Regions from separate parts of the Homo sapiens genome. Here region 2 is linked to region 1. The links come from fine-mapping of genetic effects on gene expression. Tissue or cell type: tibial artery. Region 1 holds a variant in brackets; the other region holds the start of a gene. All regions are shown on one strand. Distances are from middle to middle.

Region 1 (2,686 bases):
GTTGTCTTCCCTAAGCTCAAACAAACAGTGTTAAACTAAAAAGGAAATTAAGAATGCAAAATAAAAGAAAATAAATGGAATGGACCAAAATCCTCATGGATGAATGTGTTGGTTTGCCTTTATTTTCATCTAGGATAATTCAACAGACTGTATTCTGAGATCATGGCAAGGCACCTCTAACCCAGCCACTGGGCAACATGAGCCCCAGATGCTGAGCTAGAGGCATGTACTGGTGAAATACACAGTACCGGACTCAGCATGCTGAGCTAAAAAAAATATTTTTCCTAATATGTCCAGTTTAAAAACTTGTCATTAAACACCAAAAATATTAAAGTCTAATTAATTTATAACTAACGTTTGCATTGCTGCTGCAGGAAAGAACACAACAGCCGTCTTGCCCATGCTCTGCTGAGTATGAGGGGAACGCAGCCAGAAACGGGGATGGCGTTAAGTTTGGTTCATTAAAAACAGGACGGAGTATATCTGAAATGGATTTAGGTAGCGCAATTCTTGTAGGTTATAATTACTGATTTTCCTTTTTTTTTTTTTCCAAATAATGAGAATTAATAGATGAAAAATGAACCTTAATCAGGCCTACAAGGCCTACAGAAATCTTTGGACCCACTTTCTCAAAAACCAGTGGGTCTTGCTCGCTGGGCAAGGCAAATGTTACCATTACCAGTAAGCTTGTGATATGTATAAAACACACACACACAAAGAAACTAGAGGGGGATGTCAAACACATATCATAGAGAGCTTCCCTGGATTGTGTTTGAGCCATTTCCCACCCAGGCAATGCCGACCTTGGGAGCACAGTATCTGCTACTGGACAGAGCGTATATGTGTGTTTAATCGATAGTGTGAGCCAGAGACAACAATCTTTCTTAATCTTTCTTTATAGATGCAATTTGTAATAATAGGTTTAGAAGGCTTCCTGATTCCCTGATTGCTCTCCGACCTAAGCCAACTGCAACATTTAAGATTTAGAGGAACAAAATCCCTGCAAAAGGTCACAGACAGTGGAGCGAGCAGCCCTGTAAAAATGGGAAGAAGAGAAATCCGTAATAGCACAGGTTTACAGCGTCTAACTAGAAATTACTCAATATTATTTGTGTGCTACAAAATTGAACTTAAACACATAGATTTCGCTGAAACAGGACTCAAAAAGGATTATGGGTAGCTGTCAGCAGGCAAGGTATCGAGTGTACTTGTGAAGTATGTCATTCACATGAAGTGTCACAGTCACAGAAAAGATATTAAAAAGGCATTCCATATCTGGTAGGGCATTCCATGGTCTGAGTTTAGCTGGTTATCCAGGTGTCTTCTTGTTGTGGGGGGTGCAACAGGTTGAGATTTATCCACTTGCAACAGAGAAGTTCGGAGACAGCAAAGAATAAGCATTAGCTTACTTCCTGCTGCTCTTCAGCCACGGAGCAGGAATGTCTGGTGAGGATAAATCACTCAACTGTGCTCAGGACGAATAAGTCACAACACCTGTGAGGATCTGGCTATGTTGTCTTACTCTTGTTGACTGGTTTGCCTCCATTCATTATTGCAGA[C/T]GCACTTGTGCTTTTACTTGGCGTCACCCCAGGCTTCGGGACCGTTTCCCCAACATCATGCAAAGATGGTTCTCGGTACATGGCAACTAGTGATGGGAAGAAAGGAGGAGGAAAAGCAAACATTGCTTGGTTAGGTGTGAGAATGGTCCATCCATACCTGCATAGACCACTGCAGTTTGCCCATTTCTGTTTTCCCTGAAGTAAAGCAATTCCATTGAGACAGAATTCCTGTTGTAAAGCAATCATTTCCAGCCCACAGAGGACATTACTCCCTTCACATTCTCTGGTCTGTATACCTAAAATATGTATATGAGTGTGCATGGATTTTTGTCTAGGACAGCAGGTTTAAATGGGAGCTATGGCCTCTTTGTGGGTCCATGATGTAAAACACACACACACACACACACTATAGGAGAATGACAGGCATTTAACTTAATTCTCAAAAAAAGAAAACTCAGACATCCCTTCCACTGCACATTAATATCAACACATGAACTTCTCATTCACTTCAATCAATCTTTGTGAGCTGCGGTATTTACATCCTAGAACATTAAATTACTTTCTTTCATGTGGTTCAAAAGCAACATAGTCATACTAGTGTCAACTTCAAAGCTACACAAAATAATAACAAATAACTCTCTTCCCATAAGCCAGAGCCTTCAGGAGATTATCATTTCAATGTTCATTTCCTACAATCATGGAAAAAGACCCTTGGGCAGCAGAAGGCAACTCATTTTCTGCTATGTTATTAAAAATCTAATAATTGACATGATACAGGGGCAGAAAACAGAATGGCAAGACAGCAACTGAAACTACCTGAATAAACTCTGAGGATTTATCTAAATAGTGTCTGGTGGCATAATCATAGTAGTTCACGTGGCTTTTTAGAAAATGATTTCTGGAAGTCCTGAGAAAGGACATATAAGAGTGACTGATGGTTGGGGAAAACTAGGGATTAAAGTCATCTGCCATCAGAAATACAAGTGCATTAGAGCTGCCCAAACTGCTTTTTAGGTTTTTGAAAGTTTAAGGTATTTTACGAAGAGCCCTTAGATTTAGTTAAGATGAACTACCATATGCATTCCCTATGTTCAAGGGGGTAGAATGTGGCCTTTAGTATCAATGCA
Region 2 (2,686 bases), 270 kb before region 1:
TGTACTATGATTAGAGGACCTTCATCGTCTTCTTGCTCCAGCAGGCTAGTGTTGTGGTGGTCTTACCCTTATACCTACTTATATATAAAGGACAGGGAGAAATCCCATCCTATTATGGCTCATCCCTGATTTTAAGGATCTGGGACCACAGATGATTCTTGGATGGTTCTATTTCATGAGGAAGGATTGCATGTACAGTGCTCTTCTTAGGGTGAATGAAAAATGTTTTCCCCCTTCCATATAACCCTCTACACATTTTCCCAGATGACCATAAATGTAGGGGATAGTGTATGCACTTTGGATTTCAGCTGAAATACGACTAACTTCCTCTGTGAATTTGAGCAAGTCAGTTGACCTCTTTGCCCTCAGTTTCTTTATCTTTAAAATGGGAGTAAGAATGTCTCCCTGTTCTCTTCCATCTCCTTCTTATTTCTACCCAATTTAATTCAATACTTTTTTCAGTTTTTTGTTCAGATGCTACCATCTTTGATTAGATCAAGTGCCTGTATCTCATCTGGAAGTAACTTCTCACTGCACTTGCAACCCTTTGTTCTTTTTTTTTGTGGTTTTGTGTTGATTAATGTCTTTCTAGCTCATTGGACTCTGAGAGAGCAGGGATCATGTCTCCTTAGTTCTCTGTTATATTCATTCTGTCTTGCACAAAACCTGGCACCTGATAGATGCTAAATCCCCATTTGCTAATGCATAAATAAATGTGTGATTATTGTCATAATTAGAGAAAACATACTAAATGACTGGCACATAGTAGGTGCTTAGTAAATGACACCAATTGTTTTTCAGTGCAATTTGTGCTATAAATAAACATTTAATTTTCTTTTCTCACATTTGATATATGGGGAGAATGGGGTGAATTTGAGACAACTACAATTTAAACTGTCCAAGTCACCAACAAATTGTGGTGTGATAAGCTACTGGCCTAAACAGCTGGAAGCATGACACGCTTTTTAAAGACTAAAGAAATGAAATATCCAGTTTAAATCAAAGGATAATAAATGCAAGAAAAAGTTGTGTTTGTCAGATTTCCTTGCCCCGGCCCCAACCCAAACTCCAAAGAGTGCATCTACTTTAAAAGCGTGTGGTGAAAGTAATTCCCTACCCAAGTGTTCCCACTACTGTCACTGGCCTCACCCTTCTCCACAACTCAGGGATTATTTTAAAGGTTTCTTTAATATCGGCCAGTCCAAATATTCTCTTGTCAAATATTTCTGTGGCCCGTACTTGAAATCTGTGAACAGGACACTTTTTTTTTTTTTAATGTCAAAATAAACCATCTGCTTGTACAACTGTTTCTAATTACTTCCCTGCCTAGACTCTCCACTGAGGGGTTTGGCACCAGCACCCCGCCCAGAGCAGTGCCGCTGCCCAAATCCTCGCAGGCAGCTCATCAACGCAATTGCAACTCCGGCTGGAGCCCCGGACCTGCAAGCCTGGGTGTCCGTGGGTCCGTCTGCCCAGCCATCTGCTGGTGGCACCTCTCCCTCCTGCCGCCTCCCTCGGTGAACCCCACCTTGCAGAAGTGCAGCTCGCCCGGAGCAGCCCAGGAGCTCAGCATGCGTCCCCCAGGCTTCAGGAACTTCTTGCTGCTGGCGTCCTCCCTTCTCTTTGCTGGGTTGTCAGCTGTTCCTCAAAGCTTCTCGCCATCTCTGAGGTAAGTTTGGTTTGTTATTCTTCAGTACAGACCTGCCCTGCTTATGTGGCAGGGCTCAAGCTTGCAGGATGGCTGCCCTAAGCCAAGAGCTGTTATTAAATTGGACAAGGGATAAACTGTTTTCAACCTGTTCCTTTTCCTCTCCTTATATCTACAGCGTGTATTGCCTCATGTCTGTCCTTTTGCTTTTCCTTTGGAAAAATGCAATCATTGAATAAAAATATAATTTTCTTTTCTGCAAATACATATCAGGAGGAATTCCTGCTGTGAGTTAAAATGCTATGTGTACCAGTATCTTCTCACAACATGTAAAGCAGAATGATCTGTTTCCCAAGGGCAGCAACAGGAGGTCTGTGTTACATTTTGTATCATCCTGAAAGAGACTGAGTGAGGCACACTGCAATAGTGAAACTAAACTTTTTAAAAGTAGAGTTCCTAAAGACTGCTTAATGCAAATTATGCCCGATGCTATCATAGCATGTCTAACTCTTTCTATAGATTCACGTTTTCTCTTCTGTAATATAAGTGCCCATTGGCCATCAGATAGCAGTGGGACGTTTTTTAAAGGAGAACTGAAAAGTCAGCTGAGTGCCGTACCTTGGATTACTTTGTATTTAATCTAAATGTGCATATAAGATTTAGTGATAAACTACCAAAGAGCAGGGCAGTTCACCTCTGTCCACCTGGAGGAAGGACCTGTGTCCGGGGGCAGGTCACCCATTACACATTTTGGGCCCTGGTCATTTCTCTGGTGGGTGATACCTGTTTGCTTGGGAAAATACAGCCCTTCCAGGCAGCGCTTGGACCCCAGAGAGATGTGGGCCTCAGGCGTCCTGTTCTTGGGGTTGTACGTCTGCACCTGGAGGGGACACTGGGGAGGAAACGTGGGTTCGGAGCAGGGGGCGGCGTCCGCGTCTGACCCGGCCTGCCGGTTGCTTGTCGCCCGCGCAGGAGCTGGCCGGGCGCCGCCTGCAGGCTGTCCCGGGCCGAGTCGGAGCGACGCTGCCGCGCACCTGG

Evidence for each region. PIP is the estimated chance that this variant, and not a neighbour inherited with it, causes the effect.
Region 2: it holds the start of ITGBL1, and the variant in region 1 is fine-mapped to the expression of ITGBL1 in tibial artery (GTEx, PIP above 0.99).

What each region holds. Positions count from the first base shown.
Region 1 is chr13:101,721,323-101,724,008 of GRCh38, forward strand. It overlaps FGF14 (fibroblast growth factor 14), which reads right to left. Exons shown (of 5, transcript NM_004115.4): 5 at 1-1,645. The coding sequence ends at 1,509. Among named protein-coding and RNA genes, the nearest start is that of FGF14, 190 kb to the right of the region's middle. The variant C/T (reference allele first, on the strand shown) is at 1,560.
Region 2 is chr13:101,451,263-101,453,948 of GRCh38, forward strand. ITGBL1 (integrin subunit beta like 1) reads left to right here and starts at 1,413. Exons shown (of 11, transcript NM_004791.3): 1 at 1,413-1,669; 2 at 2,621-2,686. The coding sequence starts at 1,572. RefSeq lists an enhancer at 991-1,495.